Linked DNA regions of Homo sapiens: region 1 is linked to region 2. The links come from fine-mapping of genetic effects on plasma protein levels. A gene starts in region 2. The other region holds a variant in brackets. All regions are shown on one strand. Distances are from middle to middle.

Region 1 (12,396 bases), 150 kb after region 2:
TAGCCTTCACACTCCCTACTCCCTCTTCTACCAATTTGTTTTTCTTACCGCTTTCTGTATCTTTGGAATAAAGACTTTAATAACAGATCGGGCTGACAATGAAAGCTATCGTCTCAATCCAAATTGAAGACAGGCTTGTTGTAGTCCAGTGCTGCTAAAACATTGAGCTAATCATCATAATATTTACAGAATCATATCAAGGAAGATCCTGAAATTAATAAACGGTTCTTGAGTAGTTATAATCCTTTAGGAGATTGTGAACATATAAAAATTATACTTTTTGACTATGGCAAAGTCCTAATCGTTTAATAATGTGCTGTTTGTCGAAGCTAGCCAAAGCATGTATTGTTTATGTGCACTCTTGAGGAAGGTGATGCCATCAGGATAAGGCAAGGCCTATATATTTCCTCATGCAGGGAAAGGTTAAAGATGATCAAAATGTTATAGAATTGAGAAGAGAAATCAATATAAAAACCATGGGCTTTAAAGCCCTAAATCTTACCATGACAAGTCCTGTGTCACTTGTTAGTGTGGAACATTGGCATCCTGTTTAATGTCTTTGAGCCTCAACCTAGCCATTTGAATATGGCAGTATTGAATAACTCTGTGTAGTTATTGTGCAAACTTAATGAAATGATCTCCTTCTTCATAAATTCCTTAAGTTATGAATTTCCTTCTGCCTAAAGGTGGAACTATATCAAGCACCTTGACTGAATCTTAGATATATTCCTGGGCTTTAAGATATTTAATGTAGTATATACTGGTTACAGATAAGTAAATTGAAACCAAGTCAAGTGATTTAACAATAATTATAATTATAATTAAGTATAATTAGTGAAAAACATGGAACTAAACAGGTCTCTATTCTTTTTACTGTTGTTTATGTATCCTTTGTTTAATTATAGATACATGTACATTTCTTAATTTGGTTTCAAGGATTCTTTTGTTCTTTGTAGGACTGACTGATTTTTTTACAGCTTTAATTTTAAATGCTCACATGACTTAACATTTGTTCTGGCTGAAAGGGCTATAATTGCTTTTTTCTTATTGTAACTGCCATTTAGGAACTTGCATTGTACTGTTGAAACTTTATTCAACCAAATTATAGCATGGGAAACTGGATTTTAGGTCTGGAAAAAAAGTCTGAAGGCTTGAAAGTATGATCACATCTTAATGACATAGAGTAAAATAAACTACTAAACTAAGGATATTTTATGTTTGCTCAATTTATGTTTTTTGTTTTAGATGGAAATAGAGAAGCTGAAAAAAGCTGTCCTGTCTTCTTGAGTGGTGTGGACCTGGTGTTCATAATGTTCCAGGGATTCAGAAGCAACGCTATGAACTTCAGCTGACTTGTTACTTAAAAATTGTGAATTCTGTTGTTGTGATAAATATGAGCAAATGAAGTGTAATATCTATAGAAAAGTAGAGTGAGGGTGAATTTATATATATATTTTGTTTTGCCAATATGAAGAAAAAGAGGCCTTATTTCTTAACTGTGCTGGGATTGCAAACACTTTTTAAAAAATTGTTTGCTTGAAAATACTACTGAATATAAATAAGAATGTGCACAGTAGTTTTTTTATTGAAACTTGTATTATTTTTAAAGAGATCTATACTATAAATATGGTGATATATTTACAAGTAATCTGTTAAGATATACTATTTGAGAGGGACAGATTAGCCTTTTAGTAACTATAGTCACTACTTTTTCCATAATGCATAAGGGATATAAACTCTGTGTGTGTGTGTGTGTGTGTGTGTGTGTGTGTGTGTGTGTGTATATATATATATATATTTTTACTTTTATCCTCTTACCGAAGGTTACACTGTTGTGCCTGTTTGTCTGCAATGCTGTTTATATTTTGGGTGATGAAATAGGAGTTTCCTAGCTATATAAACCAGATTACTCACCCATGCATATAGTAAGAACTAATGAATAATCAAAATAATTTCATCAACTTTTAGAATATTTTATGTTGCTTGCACTATAGGAGTCATAAAAGGAACTTAGTTAAAATATGTTGGATTGTTAAACATTTGGGGAAATATGAACTGTATTTTAAATTTGTTAGGTCTGAAGAATCTAAAACTGTTAATTTAACCCTTAACTTGTGCCTAGAAACTACAGCACATATAAAATATGTAAACACCAGCCTGTTGCTGTACTTTTCTGCTTATTTTACAGCCTCAAATATTTCTCATTATCTTGTCACTTAGTTCTTCATGTTTCTCCTTCTGACTTTTAATAATGGTAATAGGAAAACAAAACCCAAAGCTTTTCAGAACTTCAGTGTGAGGTTTCCTATTTTGACAAGTTAACTTGTAAATACTCAGGTTTTACGATGTATAATTTACCTAATAGACCAAACTAACTCATGGAGATATTTTGAACTATTATTTAGGTACAAACTTTATAAAGAATGTTAGTATGTCATAAAATATAACATTACAGCTTATTTAAAACCAAATATAGTTGAACATATTTAAAATACATTTTCACAGAATGGATGAATTAGTTGTTTCTTCAGAGTTACTTATGAACAGTTGAATGCTTTAAAATGTTCTGTCTGTAGGTAACATCTAAAACACAAGTGGGTTTATTTAAATTTTTAAAATTTGAAATTTTTTATTTGCAAAAAATTGTTTTATGCTTTATTATATCGCAAATGAGTGTCAGATTTTTGAGTACCAATGATCATGCTTCCATTTTTTTTAGTTTTAAACCACCAAACCAATATTTTTCCTTTAAATTTTAATCTTATAATATAGAAATCTTATGTAAATGAAATTTTGTCATGTTTCAAATAAAGAGAACTGAAGTAGAAAATAGAAATGCCAGTAAACAACATAATGTTTAATTTACAACTTACATTAGGGGTTTGGGGGAATGCTAATTATATATTGAGAATATACATTAGAACTCTTCAAAATGGGCTCTTCTAATGAGGTCACTACTGAACAAAATTGTTCCCTCTTCTGTTAAATAGAATAGGTTTAAATGACTAGTCAAATGAATTATTTTCTTCTTGTTAAATAAATTAAATCTTACTTTCTTTTAATGACCAACCTTAGGTAAAACAAAAATATTGTAATCCTAGAAATTATCCTCCAGCTTTCTCACCTGAAAATCTATTGAAGTGATCCCTGGTCATCCTAATAATGGGATGAGGGAAGTTTCCAGCAGATTTCAGGCTGTTCTTAAAGTTTTTGTTGGTCATTTTCTCAATAGTACATGAAATCAAGATGCTTATGAGCATGGAAATGTATTTAAAGTTTTTGCTTGTGTCCTCCTCAGTCAGAATAGAAAAGTAACTGAAATACTTTTACCTTTCTGTCCTTGATAAAATAGTAAAGAAAACCAAACAAACCCAGGCCTGATGGGAAAAATGATTCCTTTATTCTAGCAACTTACTTTCTGTTGGTATGGGAAATGTTATTAATTTCTATTACTAAAGTTCATATCACAAAATGATATTTAATAATAACCTTGGGGTAAATCATGAATTTTTTTTCTACGTGTGAGTATAAAAGACAAAAGTTGAACAGCATGGAATCTCATTGCCAAATTATTAGTGAATGTATAGTTCAGGTATTCTTTGAGACACACAGTATCATTAATTTCTGAATTGTATTTCAGTGTTATTTTTTGTTTGTGACCACTAAGCTTCTGTCTTAATACAAAGCTGTTACCTTCTACAGAATTTAAGTCTGAAGATGTAAAGAGAGAACAGGCCTTGTGTAACAGAAGATACTCTTTTTTATGCTCCTTACTGTGATCACAGAAAAATTAAAAATCCAAGTGCTCTCTAGATTTGTTGATAAACATTTTATGCTTGCATTTAAACTTGAAATGTATGAGCAGAATGAGACAATCAGTTAAATCAGAAATGAGAAGTATTATAATGTAAAGGCCTTGTTTTGCTGTAGCAATAAAATGACCAAGTGCAATGACTTGATTTAATAAAATCATATTTTAAAAGTTGCTGCTATGAATATTTTTGGCTATAAAATTTTACCCTGACTTGCTTTCAATAACTGTTACGTAATGCAGTTGATGTTGTAACCTAACATTCCAAAAAAAAAATTGAGAGGGGGAATCTCAAAATAGTATATACTTCACTAACTTGTTTACAGGTGCTGTATTTAAAAGCATGCTTCTCTCTCAAAAAGAAAAATTAAAGGATTTTATTGCCAGTCGTGTCAGTCTTTATTGGTTATTTTTTGTTAACTTTAGCATTTGTGTATTTCAGAGTATGATGAAAATTATATTACTTCAATTTCCAAATACAAGAATAAATAGTAAACCAAAAACATTAAAAATTCTAGACCCGTATGACTTTTACTGAACTTTTCTGAGTCTGGTTTTTCATCTGAAACTGAGACAGTAATTTCTACTTTACAGGATTATGGGGAGAATTTGAAATAGTTTATCTAAATGGCTTTGTAGAGTGCTTGGCATAGAGTAGGTTTTTTTT[A/T]AAAAAAAAATGGAGGCTGCTGTTTTACCTTTTTAAAAAGCATTTTACAGTGATGGATATGATAAAAATTAGATGGATAAGGTTAAGAAAAAGGAGGCATTGTGTATCCTTTCCCCCTGAATACGGTATAGTATCCTTTTCTTTGGGGAGATGCTCCTTTCATTTGTATTATATTGTTCAAAGGGGAGCTGCTACCATCTTACAGATTCTACCTCCTTGATCACCCCACCCAGGAAATCCCTTGAGAGAGTACTTGGCTCAAACTGAGTTACTGAGTTAATCAAAGAATGAAATTTTTAAAATTGGAAACAAAAAGAGCTAATCTCAGCATGGGAGCTCTCCACAGTTCTGTTTTTCTGTCATCTGGAAAAAGCTGATTTGAAAAACAAAATTTAGTAGAGCATAGATAGATGGAAACAGAATCTGGAAGGACTTTGAAACTGATTGTAGCTGTTGCTGAGTCTCAGCTGTCTATTGCTTGGTTCTATAAGCACAGACTTGCTCATAAGCTTGTTGGGTTTCTGAACTCACAACCGAAAAAGTCCTGATAAATAACAGAAAACAAGATGAAATCAGGAGAACATTAAGGTCCACATACTTTTGCTGAACATAGATCACATATAGCTTTAGAGATTCTAGTAGTGTGCTGGAAGATTTGAAACAGAAGGAATAGGACACCACTATAAAGCAATGTGGAAAATTAGTGTGTCATAAGATTTTTAAAATCTTATTTAAAAAATTTCTAGTTCTTACTGGCTTTTAGAAGCACTAGACAAAAAACTTTGGAGGCATATAATGGTAAAAGTTTTGGACTATAGAATTTGTGTTTGAAGAGTGCAGATGGTTTTGTCTGAAAATACAATTTGCAAATTTAGCCCAGTTCTAGGAAATAAAAGCAGGTAGCAGTTTAACTCACCTGGATTTATTAGGCTGTATTCTCAAGATGCAAGAGAGACTGGGTCTGGGTGTTAAAATTTTTTTTTCTGAATCCTGTTGCATTTATTTTACCACTGACACCATTTTTGTGAATCTGCTCTTCCATGTAAGGAAAATAAATTCACAAATAGATATCAGTATTTTTTGTATAGAGTCAATAGTTTTTTTCTGTCATGAAAGGTGTGGCTATTTTGCAACTATTGGATGGTATTATTTCCTATCAGGTTCCAAGTGTTTCTTACTGACTACATTTCAGTTCCCTTTAAAAGTGTGTGAATAAAGTTATTGAAAGTAAAACTACATTTTAAGTGCATTGAGAAACTTTTTTTTTTTTTTATTCCAGTCAGGGTCCTTCTCTATTACCCTGGCTAGAGTGCCGTGGTGCGACCTCAGCTAACTACAACCTCTGCCTCCTGGGCTCCAGCAATCCTCCTGCATCAGCCTCTTGAGTAGTTGGGACTACAGGTGCATGCCACCACACCCACCTAATTTTTTTTTGTTTGTTTTGTTTTTGATACTGGGTTTCACCATGTTGCCTGGGCTGGTCTTGAACTCCTGAGTTAAAGCAATCCGCGCTGCTCCCCTCGGCCTCCCAGAGTGCTTGGATTACAGGCATTAGCCACCATGCCCAATGAGTAACAATTCTTTAATAAAATCACATGTTAACTTTTCATGGTAGAGTGGATTTTTAGAGATATTCCTAAACATTAACTGAACAGAATGTAAACGATGTGACGGAGTGATGACATTTTTACTGTCTTTTCCTCCCTTGAGACTCATTAAAAACAGTAAGTACAATGAAAAAGATTTGATATTAATAGATTAAAAAGCAGATTTAAGATAAAAACATTGCTTTTCAGATGAAATAAGGAAGCTACAATTTATAATAGTAAAAATACCTTCCAAATGTTTTGGAGGGAGCAACCTGAAATCTGATATAAACTTTCCCAGACTTTGTGCCAGATGCAGATTTCTCTGAAAGGCTCATCTGATCATTGTAGGCTCAAATCCTGTACAGAAGGATAGCTGGGGAATGTGGAGCTGAAAGAGAAGCCTCACTAACTGTAAGCCCTAATAATTGGAAGTCTGAAAACCAAGGAGAAGGAGACATGCTCTTAGGGAAGACAGATGTAATGAGAGAATATTTTGGCTAACAATTTATAGCTCTTCTTCCTTGCTGTGCTATTCATCAAATAACTGACACCATGGAAACGTGAGTAATCAGACACAAGTATCTTTATGGATACCTGTGTTTTATATAACAAAAAAAAAGTTGTCCAGAAGAAAACCTTGATTAAAATCCTTTATGTCCCAGGAGGAAAAAAATGGCATGATATGTAACACCAAGACATCTGTTAAGTTATGGAACTTTAAAGAATGAATACTGACTCAAAGAAGAAGTTGAAATTTTTAATTGACTAAACACACCGTAAGTGAATTTGAAACGTATTTAAGGCTCTACAACTGAGAAAGACAGCAAGGCCAGATGATGGCTGTGTTTTAATTGGTCTTTAAGCTACTCAAACTGTAGAAAAAGATGGAAAGCCACCCAATTTATTTTATGAATCCAGCATAACTTTAAACCTGATCATCATAAACCAAATCTCACAGGGAGAGATTTCATATCAGGAAATTTATCAATCTCAATGCATGATATGAAATTATAAGAGAAAAATAAAATGTTCACTTTGATAAAAGGAAGGGGTTTCCTGTACTGGGTATGGTGGTGAAGAACACAGTAACAAAATGGTACCACTGTCTTGATGCGTGCCTAGCAGTTCTAGTCACCGTCACCACTGCGTTTACACTAGCAGTGCAAATCTCAACACAATGAGAAAAGCAACTAGCATCTTCGTATTATCATGAAAGTTGTTTTGACCTTGTGGACCACACTTTGAGAACCACTGACCTAAAATGACCTAGTATGGTCTTTAGCATGTAGTAGACAATCAGTAAATGTTTAGTGGATGAATAAGTGACAAAAGGGGAGGTATTCTCTCTACCCCTTGTCTTTACCGTCTCCTACCTTTTCTTCCTTCCTCAAATATTCAAGTATAATATCTCCTCAAGACTAACCACTATCATGCCGATTGCTATAAAACAGACATTCTTCCAGGGACTGCATTAGGCTCTTAAAATGTATTTAACAAATTTTATATACTGGACTTTAGATGGTCAGTTTACCCTACATTTTATAGTAAACTTACCTTTAAAAGTAGGCATCGCGTCAAACATAGCTAATGTTTATATTGTGCTTACCACATACCAAGTGCTATTCCAAGTAATTGCTATCTAATTTACCTGTCTATCCTATCTAATCATCTCAACAATCCTGCGTGCTAGGAGGTATTATACTCCACACACGGGAAAGAGGCTAAGGAAGGTTAAGCAACTTGGCCAAGGCCACTGAGCTAATAAGGCCTGGAGCTGAACTCAGCCCAAGAAACCGAGTTTTGAAGCCTGTGCTTTTGCTCATAAGCTTTATTGCCTCTCTACATAGATAATATATAGGAAAGAAGGAGCCTGCCTGGGGAATATTAATTTCTTCTAGTCTAGTCTTACTTCTTTCACTCTTTGTGATCCTTTATATTAAGTCTGTCAACATTTTTCCACCAGTAAGAGACTAAATGTAAAGTCTATTTTCAGGGATCTCATAGTTTTTAGATTTCTCTGTGATGTGGTCACACAAGATTTTGGGAAACGTTCTTCATTTCTTAGTGTACATCTTTGCAAACTTAAATGGTTTTCATGGCTTTTCAGCAAAAACACAATAAACAACCTTACGTAGCTTCCATAAAGAAATTAAATGGGCCAGGCACGGTGGCTCATGCCTGAAATCTCAGTACTTTGGGAGGCTGAGGTGGGAGGATTGCTTGAGCTTAGAGCCCAGTCTGGGCAATATAAGGAGACCTTGTTTCTACTAAAAACAAAACAAAAACAAAAACTAACTGGGTGTGTTGGTGTGCATCTATAGTCTCAGCTACTTGGGAGGCTGAGGCGGGAGGATCGCTTGAGCCCAGGAGGTTGAGGCTGCAGATCGCGCCACTGCACTCCAGCCTGGGCAAGAAAATGAGGCCCTGTCTTTCAAAAAAAAAGAAAAAAGGAAAAAAACAAAATTAAATGACCACTAGATGGCAGTCAAATAAAGCTCAGCTTATATGTGTCTTGAAACCATAAACAGGTAGCAGCTGCAAATAAAATCAGAGAGGGCTCCAACCTTCACCCAGAACTGGGACACAACCAACCCTACTTCCCTAGCCTGATTACTTCCCCAAGCTAAGTGCCACATGATAGGGTAAAAAGAGTTGGGGCCTTGGAATCGAACTGATCTCGCTCTGAAAACTGGCTCTAAAAATGAGTAGCTGTGTGAACTTGGCAAATCACTCAAGTCTTATCCCTTTCCTTATCTAAAGAGACATAAAAACTTTGTTTTGCCAGAATTTAAACCCTTTCCTTCTTGCCGTTTACTCAGGGAAGAGGGAGAAAGGAGGCCCTGAGTTCTGGGAGAACAAGTCAGACAGCAGCAACAAAACCATCTTGCTCTTGTTTGTCATTTCTGTTGGATGTTGACGCCTTGAGGGCTCCTTTGACCCCAGGTTGCTGCAGTGAGTCCTGAACCTTTTCTCACATGTGTTATTTGCCACTTCCTGTCCTTGATTCTCTGGTGGCACCTCCCGTTCCTCCATTTTGTCCTGCAATGTGCTCCTACCACAACCAGGCCAAAGAGAAAGCAAATCCCATTTATGGTTGCTTATGTAACCAGCTCATATAATAGTTTTGTAGTGAGCTTTGTGCTCCAGGCTTCTTAAGGAGTTTCTGGTAGGGCATCTCTGGTTTTGCCACTTCTGTCTTTTTCCTATGTGAAGTCTAGTATAATTCATATAGAGTTGGAGTCTGCCAGTACAGTCCAGAGCCAGTGGTCAGTGGAGAGAGTCTATGGTGCCACGACCATGCCTGAAAAAGTGAATCCATTTTCTGCCCAAATTCTAAGCAGGAAATGACTTTTCTCTCCAAAATGGGGTTAAAATGTCCATATTGTGGTGATGATGTGACTGTAGGGTCACAGAAGCAGAGAATAGTCCTACCCCAGAAGGAACGTGGTCACCTGAAAGACTTCAGAAGTGAAACATGCTATATAGGAGGACAGAGCAAGACAACATCACACAGATCTTTCCACTGACAAAATAGCCAGCCATCTGCAGTATGCTTTAGGGAAAAGCAAAACCTTTCATGGATATCAGTAAGTCTTGACCCAGGGCTTAGACAGTATTTTGAACAAGTGACAAAACTAGTGATTATGATTCTTAATAGTGATAAAAATCCTGGAGTATGAGAAAAACAACATAGTATACATAAAAGTATTCAGGGACCGTTTCCTTAGTCTCACCAAGATTATCACCAGTTCCATGGAGAGAGAGGGAGAAGTAGAGAATGAAATAAAATAATGTATATTCGTTTTAGTCTATTGAATTTGTGAATGTATGTGTAATGCAAAAATGCCTTTATGTTTGTTTATCTTGATCTGAACCTGTGTTCTTACTGAGGCAAGAAAAAAATTGCCATTCAAAGGCTACATTCTCATCTGGCTTATTAATTAATTGATTATTTTTTTTGTACGTGTATGAGATGGAGTCTCACTCTGTTGCCCAGGCTGGAGTGCAGTGGCATGATCTCAGCTCACTACGTCTGCCTCCCGGCTCAAGTGTTTCTTGTGCCTCAGCCTCCCAAGTAGCTAGACTATAGGCATGTGCCACCATGCCCTGCTAATTTTTGTATTTTTAGTAGAGACATGGTTTTGCAATGTTGGCCAGACTGGTCTCAAAAACTCCTGACCTCAAGTGGTCTGCCCGCATTGGCTTCCCAAAGTGCTGGGATTACAGGCATGAGCCACCATGCCCAGCTGTCATCTGGTTTAAATTATAAATCACTGCATATACAAAATAAGTAGCAATCAACATAAAATTCCCTTGGGCTGTTTCTCCTCACTCAGGGATCTGCCTTTGTTCTTAGTGTGGTGTCTGTGTGTGCAAGAAGTGGATACATCCTCTAGGGAGCAGGAGGAGACAAGACTCCGTGTTTCTGAGCCTCTTGCTCTCCTCTGCCCCTTTCCTCCCTAGTTGAGTATTGATGTGAGAAGACATCTCACCTCTTGCCTGGCCCTTGCTCTTGCTCTCTGTGTCGGAACTTCTCTTGTTCAGAACCAGAAGGGCTCTGGATTAGCTTTCTATTGCCGCTGTAATTATCACACAAATTTAGTGGTGCAAAAACAATAGACATGTATTATTTTATATGCTGGAGGTCAGAAGTCTGACATGAATCTCACTGGGCTAAAATTAAGGCTTCCAAAGGAAGCTCTAGGGGGAAAATTCCTTTCCTTGCCTTTTCCAGCTTCTTTAGGCTGCTGGCAATTCTTAGCTCATGGCCCCCTTTCCCCATTTTCAAAGCCACCTGTAGAGGGTTGAGCCCTTCTTAAACTGCAGTCCTCCATCCTTCATGCATAATCACCTCTCCCTGATTCTGTCTCCCTCTCCACTCTTAAAAACCCTTGTGATTACATTTGGCCCACCTGTCTGAAGGCTCTTAATCACATTAGCAAAATCCCTTTTGCCGTGTAAGGTAATGTATTCACAGATTCCTGGGACTAGAATGTGTGTATATATCTAGGTGGCAGTGGTGGTGGTGGGGATTATTCTGCCAGCCACAGGCTCTCTGCTTCCTGTCAGATTGAAATGTTCCTATATTCTAGCCTTCTTTTCCCTATGCTGTGGTATTCACCCTTCCCTTCTTTATGGCAGTAAAGGAAGGCTTCAGACAAAGGATTCAGCTTACCAGTGAGTGAAAGTACTTTTTAGGTGGGGGGTGTTTTAAAAAATCATCCCCAGAATAAATAGTGACTTGCCCAGGGAGTTTTGAGGGGCATTGATGAATACAGTGAAAAGGAAACACTTTACCCTGGGAATAATTCACCATTCCAACAACTAGACTCTTAAAATTAGCTAGACAACTAATTTCATGGTAGATAATGACACTGGAAAGAGGAAGATAATAAGATCCCCTGCTGATCAAATCTGAGCCTGAAGCCTATTTAGTGACTAAGATAAGAAATGAGGTTATCGACTACTTAAACAACAAAGCTGAGGAAAACTGGGTGGTGGACAAAGAAGAGAAAATATAAATTAAAAATTTGAGGGTGAATTTTAGAACTTTAGAAGTAAGTTTTCCTGATGGCTGAGAATTCAAACCAACATACTTTCCTGTCCTTGTGATAAACAATACTGGTACTGGACATTCTTTCCTGTCCCAAGTGAAATACCAAAAGCAAACAAAAATAGATTAGGTACTTGCTCTCCAGGAAATATTTGCTCTTGGAAGATAAAATTCTGAATAAAACAAAATAGCTTATTAAGGGAGAAGACTACCCCTCATATTGTCTTATGCCCAATTTCTGCCTCCAAAGAAAGAAGAAGTAAAAACTAAAAGACAGAAATGAAATCCACAGGCAGAGAGCCCAGCGCCGCACCCTGGGCCTGGTTAAAGATTGACCCCTGACCTAACTGGTTATGTTGTCTATAGATTCCAGACATTGTATGGAAAAGCACTGTGAAAATCCCTGTCCTGTTCTGTTCCATTCTGATTACCAGTGCATGCAGCCCCCAGTCACGTACCCCCTGTTTGCTCAATCAATCACGACCCTCTCACGCAAACCCCCTTAGAGTTGTAAGCCCTTAAAAGGGACAGGAATTGCTCACTCGGGCAGCTCCGTTTTTAGAGACGTGAGTCTTGCCGAAGCTCCTGGCCTAATAAAGCCCTTCCTTCTTTAACTTGGTGTCTGAGGGGTTTTGTCTGTGGCTTGTCCTGCTACATTTCTTGGTTCCCTGACCGGGAAGCGAGGTGATTAACAGACTTCGAGGCAGCCCCTTAGGAGGCTTAGGTCTGCCCTGTGGAACATCCCTGTGGGGGACTCCAGCCAGCTTGAGCAACA
Region 2 (12,886 bases):
ACAAGACATATCAAAATCTATGGGATACAGCAAAAGCAGTACTAAAAGGAACATTTTTACCAATAAGCGCCTACATCAAAAAAGTAGAAAAAATCAAATAAATGATCTAACAATGCATTTTTATAAACTAGAAAAGCAAGAGCAAACCAAACCCAAAATTAGTGAAGAAAAGAAACAATGAAGATCAGAGCGGAGATAAATGAAATTAAAATTTAAAAAAAATGAAAAAAGTTGTTTTCTAAAAAGATAAATTGAGAAACTCTTAGCCAGACTAAGAAAAAAGAGACAAGACCCTGATAAATAAATTCAGAGATGAAAAAGGATACATTACAACTGTTACTGCAGAAATTCAAAGGATCATTAGGGGCTACCATGGGCAACTATATGCCAATAAATTGGAAAACCTAGAAGACTTGGGCAAATTTCTAGACACCTACAACCTACTAAGATTGAAGCTTATGAAATTCAAAACCTGAATAGGGCAATAACAAGTAACAAGATTGAAGCCATAATAAAGAATCTCCCAGCCAAGAAAGTCCAAGATCCAATGTCCTCACTGGTGAATTTCACCAAATATTTAAAGAAGAACGAATACCAATGCTTCTCAAACTATTCCAAAAAATAGAGAAGGAGGGAATACTTCCAAACTTATTCTATAAAACCAATACTATCCTGATACCAAAACCAGACAAGGACACATCAAGAAAAGAAAACTACAGGTCAATATTTCTGATGAATATTCATGTGAAAATCCTCAATAAAATACTAGCAAACAGAATCCAACAGCACATTAAAAACAGCATTCATCATGACCATGTGGGATTTATCCCAGATATGCAAAGATGGTTCAACATAAGTAAATAAATCAATGTGATTCATCATATAAGCAGAATGAAGGACAAAAACTATATGATAATTTTAACTGATGCCTAAAAACCATTTGATAAAATTCAACATTATGATAAAAACCCCCCAAAAAACTGGGTATAGAAGGAACATACCTCAACACCATAAAAGCCATGTATGACAGACTCACAGCTAGTATCATACTGAATGGGGAAAAACTGATGAGAGGAAAAAATGGCCTTTCCTGTAAGATCTGGAACAAGAAAAAGATGTCCACATTCACAACTGTTGTTCAACATGGTGCTGGAAGTTCTATCTACAGCAATCAGGCAAGAGAAGGGAATAAAGGGCACCCGAATTGGAAAGGAAGAAGTCAAATTATCTTTGCATGCAGAAGATATAATTTTATATTTGGAAAAACCTAAAGACGCCACCAAAAAACTATTAGAACTGATAATCAAATTCAGTAAAGTTGCAGGATACAAAATCAACATACAAAAATCAGTAGCATTTCTATATGCCAACAGCAAACAATCTAAAAAAGAAATCAAGAAAGTAATCCCATTTATAATAACTACATATAAAATAATATATTTGGGAATTAACCAAAGAAGTGGAAGTTCTCTACAATCAAAACCATAAAATACTGATGAAAGAAACTGAAGAAGACACACACATACACACACAAACACACACACACACACACAAATAGAAAGATATTCCATGTTCATGGATTGGAAGAATCAATATTGTTAAAATGTCCACACCACCCAAAGTAATGTACAAATTTAATGCAGTTCCTATCAAAACACCAATGACATTCTTCACAGAAATGGAGAAAACAATCATAAAATTAATATGGAACCACAAAAGACCCAGAATATCCAAAGCTATCCTGAGCAAAAAAGAACGAAACTGGAGGCATTACGTTATGCAACTTCAAATTATACTACAGAGCTGTGCTAACCAAAACAGCAGGGTACTGGCATAAAAACAGACACATAGACCAGTGGAACAGAATAGAGAACATAGAAATTAATCCATACATCTACAGTGAACTCATTTTCAACAAAGGTGCCAAGAACATACTTTGGGGAAAGAATGGTTTCTTCAATAAATGGTGCTGGGAAAACTGGATACCCATATGTAGAAGAATGAAACTAGATCCCATCTGTTGTGATACACAAAAATCAAATCAAAATGGAGTAAAGATTTAAATTTCTAAGACCTGAACCTATGAAACTACTAAAAGAAAATATTGGGGGAAACTCTTTAGGACATTGGACTGGGCAAAGATTTCTTGATTAGTACCCTCACAAGCACAGGAAACCAAAGCAAAAGTGGCAAATGGGATTACATCATGTTAAAGAGTGTCTGCACAGCAAAGGAAACAATCAACGAAGTGAAGAGGCAACCTACAGAATGGGAGAAAATATTTGCAAACTATCTGCCTGACAAGGGATAAATAACTACAGTACATAAAGAGCTTAAATAACTCTATAGGAGAAATTTAATAATTTGATTAAAAATGGGCAAAAGATCTGAATAGACATTTCTCAAAAGGAGATATAAAAATGGCAAACAGGAGGCCAGGTGCAGTGGCTCACGCCTGCAACCCCAGCACTTTGGGAGGCCAAGGCAGGCGGATCACCTGAGGTTGGGATTTCGAGACCAGCCTGACCAATGTGAAGAAACCCTGTTTCTACTAAAAATACAAAAATTAGCTGGGCATGGTGGCGCATGCCTGTAATCCCAGCTACTTGGGAGGCTGAGGCAGGAAAATTGGTTGAACCTGGGAGGCGGAGGTTGTGGTGAGCCAAGATTATGCCATTGCACTCCAGCCTGGGCAACAAGAGCAAAACCCCGTCTCAAAAAAAAAAAAAAATGGCAAACAGGTATATGAAAATATGCTCAACATCATTGATCATCAGAGAAATACAAATGAAAACTACAGTGAGATATCATCTCTCCCCAGTTAAAATGGCTTTTATCTAAAAGACAAGTAATAACAAATGCTGGTGAGAATGTGGAGAAAAGAGAACCTTTGTACACTGTTGGTGGGAATGTAAATTAGTATAGCCACTATGGAGAACAGTTTTGGAGGTTCCTCATAAAACTAAAAATAGAACCACCATAATATGATCCAGCAATTCTACTGCTAAGCGTATACCCAAAAGAAAGGAAATCTTATATCAAAGAGATATCTGTCCTCTCATGTTTATTGCAGCACTACTCACAATAGCCAATATTTGGAATCAACCTAAGTGTCCATCAACAGATGAATGGATAAAGAAAATGTGGTACATATACACAATGGAGTACTATTCATTCATAGAAAAGAATGGAATCCTGTCATCTGCAAAAACATGAATGGAACTGGAAGTCATATGTTAAGTGAATTAAGCCAGGAACAGAAAGACAAACTTTGCATGTTCTCACTTATTTGTGGGAGGTAAAAAATTTAAAACAATTGAACTCACAGAGTGTAGAATGATGGTTAGAAGAGGCTGGGCAGGGGTGGGGAGAATGGGAATGGTTAATGGGTGCAAAAATATAGTTAGATAGAATGAGTATGATTAAATAGAATAACAGGGAGAGCACAGTCAACAATAATTTATTACACATCTTAAGATAGCTAAAATAATATAATTGAATTGTTTGCAACACAAAGAATGGATAAATGCTTGAGGTGATGGATATCCCATTTACCCTGATGTGATTATTATGCATTGTATGGCTGTATAAAAATATCTCATGTACCCCATAAATCTATACACCTACTATGTACCCACAAAAATTAAAAATTTCTATAGCATAAAATTTTGCAGAGATTCAAATAAGAATACTACAAATTAATTATTAAATTGAAAATTTCCCCAGTTTATTTGTCTGTGCCATGTTGATTCGAAATGCAGGTTCTCCTCAATAAGGTACATTTTATTTAAATAAGTGCAAGTTGAAATAGTTAGGTATATCTTTGCCTTCTTAGCTGGAAATCACATTCCTTGAAGGCAGAGTTTGTGTTTGCTGCAATGAATCTTTCACAGTGTCCAGCATATGAAATCCCTTGTATCTTATATTAGTTTAAACATTTATTGTATTAGTAAAAAAACATATTTACTAATTATTTGAGGGTAGTGGGTGCTTAATCAATGCTTATTTAACCAAATTTTTTTGTACCTAATTTTTTGTGACTTGTGTGCATTTTTTTTATGACCGTGGATGTAGCTGGAAAAGCAAATCAGTTGCCTACTTAAAATACTTCATTAATTGCCTCTTACTTCTAGAACAAGACGTCAAATTACTTCCCTGGCACACAGTGCTCTCCATATTTGAGTGTGGTCTCAGAGCCTGGCCCCTCAAAGACATCCTAGCCTTTTTTTTTTTTTTTTTTGAGATGGAGTCTTACTCTGCCACCCAGGCTGGAGTGCAGTGGCATGATCTTGGCTCACTGCAACCTCTGCTTCCCGGGTTCAAGTGATTCTCCTGCCTCAGCCTCCCAAGTAGCTGGGATTACAGGCACCCACCACCATGCCTGGCTAATTTTTGTATTTTTAGTAGAGATAGGGTTTCGCCATGTTGACCAGGCTGGTCTTGAACTCCTGACCTCAGGTGATCTGCCCGCCTTGGCCTCCCAAAGTATTGGGATTACAGGCGTGAACTACCACGCCCATCCTGGGCTTTGGATTGTATACCTGCCTATTGTCCTGGCTACCTGACTACCCTTCCTTGTCCTTACTGAGAATTCCAATGTACCCTCGAGAGACTCCCCAATCCTTTCTCTTTTAAGGGCAAGGACTTTATTTCTATCTCTATATTTATCATCCAGAAGCTGCTCATTTGTAATGGGTGATCAGAAAAACATCTGTTGAGTTGAATAAATGTGTACTTGTGACTGGAAATTATTTACATAATACCATGTGTATAATTTAACTGCCTGATATTTGAAAATGCAAATGTATTTGTTATTTGAGATTACTTAAAATATGTGACCCTTCAAAAGGAGCTAGCTTTAATATTTGGGAGGAGTAATGCTTCTTGAAAGATATTCCCTTTAAAGGCCTATGAGTCTCCTATGACTTGCCTATCAAATGCCAGCTTTATGACACTAGCATCTGAATAAAGTGCAAATAACACCATTAAAAAGGTCCTTGCAGTTGGCAAGTGGTGATTCATTTAGATGGGTCATCATGTTTTTAATTAACTCTTTCTTAGTATGCAATAATGAAAAGTGCTTAGAGTGGTCATAGGCCTGAGGACATCCCCCAAGTTGCTAGTCGAGGAACAGTATTTTGTTGCAAGCTGAATGGGCCACCAGTTTGAGCAGGGGGATTTTTCAGCTTCAATGATCTCACAGTATAGGCATTCTGATTGAGGTTATTATTTCCTACAATTGTTTTCTAAAGAATGATTTTTAAAATGCAGATTATACATTGATGTAATTTGGGCTTAAGTTTACAGTAAATTAGCCAGGCCAAAACAAGGTAGCAGTAAGAAAACTTCCCAGGAAACCTAGTACTTTTGAATGAGAATAAAGAAAAAATAATTAGTCACAAGATTTTAGCTAAATGAGTGCTTTAAAAATAATATAATTTAGTTAACACTTATTTTTCTTTAGCATAATCTTCTTGGTTATAATAGTTTTTACCAAAAGGAAAGAAGGCAGATGCTTTTTTAAAATATAGATATCTTCAGATAAATTCCTAAGAAAACTTCAGGAAGAAATCATGGCAGTTTAGCATGAATTACGTTGGTCTGAAATTGTGTCATTCACACAGAACTGTAGTGCTCTCCTTGATATCAGATCAACATGTTTAGTACTTGGCAGAAAAAAAGAAAGTGAATGATTAGAGTGGTGTTAGTCCATTTGTACTGGAATACAAAGAAGAATAAGGACAGATGGACAGAAACAAACCTAATCCAGTATAAAGGTAACAATAAAATAAAGGGAAAAGTAAAAGATAATTTGTTTTTAGATTAAAGGAATTTAAATTTAATATATGTGGTAAGTAGAAATTATCTTCTCACCATATTTTCTCTCATTCAACTAATAATTATTGCCAGGGAACGCAATGTTTTGAGCTGCAGACGGTGGTAGCCATATAAAAACGTATAAAACATACTGCCATACCTTGAAGGCCTCTTATAGCTGAGAAGGTAAGATTTAAAGGATGAAAAGAGCTTAAAGGAATAATTAATAACTAATATTTGCATAGCATTCAAAAGTTTAGAAGGTATTTTTACATACCATTTTGTAAGTTTAAAAGTAAATTGCTAGATTTCATTCTTCTGTTAGAATTTCCTTTGGCTTTGTCTTTGGAAAACAACATTAAATTTGGGATTGCGATTACTTCTTAGATTTACTTCAGTTTTCTCAACCATTCTTAGGGGTTCTATTCCCTGATCCTTCCAATTTCTATGATTTGTCATCTCATCATTACCTCAATGGATAATGCCTCTGAATTTGCAAAGTGAATTTAACTTTTAAACTTGTAAAATACGTACATTAATTATGGCAATAACTGATGCTAGAATTTTTTTTTTTTTTTTTTTTGAGACAGGGTCTCACTCTGTCATCCAGGCTGGGTGGAGTGCAGTGGCAGGATCACAGTTCACTGCAGCCTCGACGGCCCTGGACTCAGGTGATCCTCTCACTTCCGCCTCCCAAGTAGTTGAGACCGCAGGCCTGTGCCACCATACCTGGGCTAATTTTTGTATTTTTTTTTTTTTTTTTTTTGTAGAGATGGAGTCTTGCTATGTTGCCCAGGCTGGTCTCAAACTCCTGGGTTCAAGTGCTCCTCCTCCCTTGGCCTCCCAAATTGCTGGGATTACAAGTGTGAAGATCCTGGAATTTCTAGGACATAAATGATTGTAAATGTTTTATCTTGTTGTCAGATCATGTGACCTGACTTCTCAGAAAATATCTACCTTATCTGTGGCCTCCACTTCCTTATCATTCAATTGATAAAACCTTTAATCTGAATTTTCTATTATATATATATTCTGAATATGTAGTTATATATTATATATTCTATTATATATATTCTGAAATTATATTTTCAAAGATGCCCTTATTATCAAATCTGATAGTCTTTATTCCCCCTTCTGTTTTACTTAACTTCTTTTCCATTCTATTCATTGGCCTTTCTTCTTTAAATATTAAGGATTCTAGAGACCTAGAAATTTAGTCTCTAGAAACTTAAGGGCTCTGGGCCTTGAATTTACTACCTATGTATGTGCTTCCAATAGCTTATATTTTTGTCTCCTTTCATGAATCCTTCTTAGCCCATCACCAGCCTCATTCTTCCAAATCGTAAATGGCCTTCCTTATGGGCTGCTTGAGCCACACACATTTCTTAAAGGCTCAGAAATACTCTGTTTGCATATCCACTTCCATTCCTCAGTTCTAGGACTCCTCCAGACTGAATTATTGCCTTCCCCAAGCTTTCGTTCAACTCATACCTTCTCTTTACAGCTTGCTTTGCCCACAGTAATTTATTTTCCTTTAAATTCTCAAGCATTTGACCCTCACTACCTCATACTGTTAATTAACTTTGTGTTCGTATCTCACCCCCCTAGAAGAATGCAAAATCTCTGAGGATTAGCGCTGTACTTTAGCTTTTTATTTTTTTGCTTGGTAGGGGACAACGAACATAATGCTGAACACATATTTGTTACCTAAAAAAGGCACATGTTCCATGATGTCAATGTAATCTTGTTTAGGTGAGTATATTCAACTTTTTTCTTTTATCCTTTTTGGCTGCTGTTTGTGAGTTTGATCATTCTTGTTATAAAATTACCACATGTAACCTTTTGAGAAGCATTAGAAGAATTAAAAGATGGCAAAAGCAGGCCTATAGGAAATAGTGGTAATGGATACGTCCAAGGTTACTACTATGGGCCACTGTGCTCTGCATTGCAAGATTTGTTTGAACATACTCAAGAAATTGAAGTTCAGACAGGTTAATTTATCCAAGGTCCCACAAAAAGTAAATGGCTGTGCTGAGTTTCAAGGACCCATGTCTGCCTGGATCCAAAGGGCAAGTCAGTTTCAGTGCTGGATGACTGAGAATTACAAAATTTCTTGAAAAAGCACTAGGCACAATAGTTGGCGTTCAACAAACGCTCACACACACATCTGCCCTGGAATTGGGTCTACTTAAACAGAAGGGGGAAAAAAAGCTTGCTGAAATAATTATACTTCTTCGTAACTACCAAGCTCATGTTTGACTGACTATAGTAATCCTATGCCCTCCTTCACATTGACGCTAGAAAAAATGCCTGGCAGTATTTCAAATCATGATGCCTATTTTTCTCTCGATCAAGTAACAACTCAAATTATACTTTAAAAAGAAAAAAAGCAAATTATAAAGTTGCATTCAGCTGACAAGAGACTAAAGGAATCTGTGAAACAGAATTTATTTGATGCCTAGGTTTCTCCCTCACCCGACGAAGACCAAATGCTGCTGATCCGTAAGTAACTTCGCAAGGTAAACTGAGGGGCCTGGCAGCATCTGGGCCTCCCTTAAAGGTCGAAATCAAGTGCGCTCGCCCTCCTTCTGTCCGCCTTTTCCCTTTAAGGTCCTCGAGGCTGCTTCGCTGCAGAAAGTAACTCCGCGTCGCCGCCGCGGAAAGTGGGGCAACTTTGCCTATCAGCAGAAACCTTTTGATCCATCTGAGGCGACAAACCAGACCAAACGCCCGCCCAAGCTGTTCCGAGCCTCCGGGGGGAGAGCGAGCCCAAGCTCCTCTGCACCGCTTCCTCATCCGCTCGCTGCACCTGGACGCGGTCGGCGCGCGACCCCCGGCCGTGACGTCACCGCACCTGGCAGCAGCCGTGGGGACCGGGAGAGAGCCCGAACGCGACGGGGCGGGGTGGGGCGGGGAGAACGAGGGCGTTCTCGCGAGATTTGCCTCCTCCCGGTCCCAGCTCCCCGCACCTTCTCGGCCTCTGTCTGGGTCCCCACCTTAGTCTACGGTGTCGCCTTTTCTAACTGCGAGTGCTAAGGAAGAGGCGAGGGGCGGGCTCCGAGGCTAGGCGGGCGCTCGGGGTTGGAGCCGAGGGTCTGGGCAAACCGGTGGGTCCCTCCCCACTGCGGGAGCGGCCAGGGTGGGAAAACCGCGGTCGGGCGGGCGGGGTAGGGCCCTCCCGCCGCCGTGGCTCCTGGGGAGGCCAGGGGTGAGGAGCTGTCGCCGCCTTTGCCTCTGCCTCGAGGGCCGCGCTGAAGAGACTGGTAGGAGAGCGCCGCGGGCGGATGGAGGCGACTCTTCGCCCCGCCTGAGCTCAGGAGGGGCTAGCGCGGAGCGCGGGTCCCGCCTCCAGCCGCGGGAGCGGCCGCGCGAGCCACCACTGGAGGAGGAGGAGGAGGAGCGGACGTCGGCTTCTCCCCGCGGGAGCCCCCAGCATGGGTAAGAGACTCGGGCGCTTCCCGCCGCCCGTCCGGACCTTCCAGACCCGGGGAGGCTGTGCCCTTTCTCGGCCTTCTGGGGAGGCGACTGCGGTCAGCCCCTGAGCGGCAGCACCCCACCCTCTCCATTCTCCCCACCGCCCCTTCTTGCCCTGCCTTCCACCTTGCTCTTCTCACGGAGAAACTGGTGGGAGAGCTCGCGGGTGCTTTCCCTCGCTCTCCCTTCTCCGCCTCTTTTCCTGTTCACCAGAAAGGTGCGGGATGGGGGGCGGGGGCGCCTGGCCACCTCTGCTAACCCCTTGCCCAGCTAAAATCAGACCTGACCTTCCTTCCCTTCCTCATCCCCTTGCTTCCCTCCCCCTCCTCGTGGGATGGGGGAGGGCGATCGAAAAACTTGATAAAGTAGCACTTTCAACTTCTTTATTTTCTGCGAGGCTTTGAATACGTTTAAGGAGAGAGATAAATTTGTTCAAAAACTTTTTTTTTTTCCTGCTGAAACTCGCAAGGGGTGCCTCAAGGACAGGAAAGCTTGAGTATTTGTTTTACTCGGGTTCTACCTAGGCAAGTGTGTTGGCACCTAAGCATTCAGTGTGCTCCCGAGGACTGGGTTTGGACTTCAGTGTTGGATCCTTTGAGGAGCAGTTTCCTGTTTGGAGTTAGACTTCCTTGCCGGAGGAGAGAAAAATACAAGGCCTTATATGTTATTTACTATGTGCTTTATAGTTTTGTTTGAAGTTAGAGAAGGCAGAATGTGTGGCAGTCCGGGTTGAAAAGGAGTTTTGTTAAGTGGTGTAACAATTTCTTTTGATAACAAAGTTCGGTGTGGGCTAGGCATTAAACTAACTCCCTCAATCCTTTAAAAATTAAAAGCAACTTAAGAATAGCTTACAAAAAACAAAACACCCTGTGTCTCTATAAGGCAGAACGTGTTCTGTAAGAGTAAACCCAAGTTTGATTTTTGTAGAGCAAATCAGGAGGACCCTATCACTTTTTGCAGTTGAGAGTTGGTACTGCTTCATATCAACAAACGATCACCGAAATGAATAATTCATGTAATTAACAAATGATTTAGAAGCAGGACGAATACAGACTACTGCTGATGTGGCACCCTCTGTCCACACTTTGCTTTGTGGGGGATGTTTTGAGCATATTGTTTATAGACACTCGCCTAGCTATCCTCTGTTTTCTTAGACTTTTCTAATTTTATGTTCCCTTCTCCACCTCCCTCCTTTCAGGTAACTTTCATACTCAAAAGTGCTCTTGAGCTCAAAAACAGTGAAATAAAACATTTGCTATTTGGAATTTTCAAATGAATTATTTTATAATTGATTAGTTGAGCTTGCAGGGCAATTGTGGGCATATTCTTTTAAGTATGAAATTATAAAATCACTTTAACTGCTTTGGATTAAGATAATACTAAAGTTAATTACACAGTTCTTTTCTGTCTTAAATGGGATGCAGAATAAAATTAAACTACTTTGGATGACCTGGGGATGCAGTCTTGTTTTGCATATAGGGCTTTTGAGCTAAATTCTAAATAATATTTGTTCGCATTTTGAAATTATTTAAATACTTTTTTTTTTTGCTTTGCTTTTGGATGTGCTTGTAACTGATTAGTGTCCCCCATCATCTTTCCTTTTCTAATTTTTTTTTAGAAGTGTGGAAATCATATTCAGGTTTGTGATTCTGCATAGGGGAAAAATCAGTAGGCCGTTACTTAGTGTGTGAGGTCGTCTCTGGAGAAAAGTAAATGTGTACCAATACTTGGACATTGGAATACCTATTTTGATTGTCCAGAGGCTTTTTCTTTGTGATTTATTTGTTGTGTTCTGTTTAGGTGAGTTTTCATATAGACTTGGATATCAATGTTGGTATACTCTCGACTACTTAGAATGTGTTTTGAAGGTATGTTACTGAGGGCATTTGTGGTTAAGTTTTTGTAAAGTGTTTGTGAAACATTTCCATATCAATATATATATTCTTTAAGTTTATTGGTCATGTAATAATAAAATTCCCAAGTTCACTTAAAGGGAGTTTGCTCTTTAATATAAATCTCATTTATTTGGTTTTACCAGCCATCCTTTTTTCTTATGATTTTAGATGCAGCCTAAAATATTTACATGATATTTTATCTAATTTGTCACAAAATGAAAAAATCTGAAATTTTTTTTGTGTGTAAGATAATTTGGATGCCTATTAAATGGTGGTTCTTAAGTTTAGGTGGTACAGCTAGAGAGTTAAAAGCATGGGCTCTGGACAGAGACTACTTGAGGTCAAATTCTCTTCTACCTACTGGCTGTGTGACTGAGCACATTACTTCTCTGTGCTTCAGTTTCTCAATCTATAAATGGAATAAAATATCAACCTCATAGGTTGTTAGGAGGATTGAATGAGTTACTACTTGTAAAGTGCTTAGAACACTGCCAGTGCTGGCGGTGGTGATTTTCATTTTCAAATGATTTCCCTAATTCTTGTACCAACTTGGGAAAAAAAAAATCTCAATTTTTGACCTTTGTTAGAAGTAGGATATTTTCTTTAAATAAAGGACCAGAGGGATGAGATGATTTTGCACTAAGGCAGAAATTGAATTTTATGTGATATAACCTTACAGAAACCACATAGATACTTTTTTCAATGTTGGATGTACTGTGCGAAAGTCCATTATTGGTAAGAGCTTTAGTTGCTTAGGAAAAACTCTTAAGTGGGATGACTACTAGTAGACTTATTTGAAGTTTATGTTTTTAGTGTCTACATTTGTTAAATGTGATAAAATGCCTATTGAGAAGTTTGAGGTATTCTGTGTGAAAGAATTTGGGAAGAGCTCTAGGGAGACAGATAGGCAGTGCTTATTTTTCTTATTCCAAAAATACAGATCGGCATTTTGGAGCAGAATTAGGCAGAAAGCAAATGGCACAAAGTGTCAGAGCATTTCTAGAGCACAAAAAAGGAATATTTGTGAATTTTTATTTTTGGAAGAGTAAGCAGACTTCTAAGGGCAGAATTTCTCTTTAATAATTTTAGATAAGGCGGTGAACTTTTTAGTTTATTTTATAGGCTCTCGTATATAAAACATATCAGTCATGTGGTGGTGTTTTTTTGTTTGTTTGTTTGTTTTTTTGATGGAGTTTTGCTCTGTTGCCCAAGCTGGAGTGCTGTGGTGCGATCTCGGCTCACCGCAACCTCCGCCTCCTGGGTTCAAGGGATTCTCTTGTCTCATCCTCCTCAGTAGCTGGGATTACAGGTGTGTGCCACCATGCCCAGCTAATTTTTGCATTTTTAGTAGAGACAGGGTTTCACCATGTTGGTCAGGCTGGTCTCGAACTCCTGACCTCATGTGATCTGCCCGCTTTGGCCTCCCAAAGTGCTGGGATTACAGGCGTGAGCCACTGCACCTGGCCTCGTGGTGGTTTTAATAGACAAATTTGTGGTTGGTTTAGATGATATATGCACTTCTATAATAGAGTGATTTCTTTATGTTACTTTGTTGTACTGTTTGGAGAAAATATTTTAAAAATTTTTATTTATATGTTATTTATTTACTTATTTTTAGAGACAAGGTCTTGCTCTGTTACCCAGGTTGGAGTTCAGTGGCATGATCATAGCTCACTGCAGCCTCAAACTCTTGCCTCTGC

Alleles and levels. Alleles are on the strand shown, and positions count from the first base shown. The strength of an association depends on the size of the effect and on how common the allele is.
In carriers of allele T in region 1, the plasma level of the protein whose gene starts at base 8,796 in region 2 tends to be lower than with A alone (strong association).

Evidence for each region. PIP is the posterior inclusion probability: the model's chance that the variant is causal. The UK Biobank Pharma Proteomics Project read protein levels with antibody pairs (Olink). The fine-mapping took linkage between variants from a reference panel, not from the people measured, so its PIPs are less certain.
Region 1: its variant is fine-mapped to the plasma level of the CD2AP protein (UK Biobank, PIP above 0.99).

What each region holds. Positions count from the first base shown.
Region 1 is chr6:47,622,941-47,635,336 of GRCh38, forward strand. It overlaps CD2AP (CD2 associated protein), which reads left to right. Exons shown (of 18, transcript NM_012120.3): 18 at 1,246-4,323. The coding sequence ends at 1,287. Among named protein-coding and RNA genes, the nearest start is that of ADGRF4, 69 kb to the right of the region's middle. The variant A/T (reference allele first, on the strand shown) is at 4,479.
Region 2 is chr6:47,468,994-47,481,879 of GRCh38, forward strand. It overlaps CD2AP (CD2 associated protein), which reads left to right and starts at 8,796. Exons shown (of 18, transcript NM_012120.3): 1 at 8,796-9,255. The coding sequence starts at 9,252. It overlaps CD2AP-DT (CD2AP divergent transcript), which reads right to left and starts at 9,079. Exons shown (of 1, transcript NR_187257.1): 1 at 8,250-9,079. RefSeq lists a silencer at 8,558-9,067 and an enhancer at 9,354-10,080.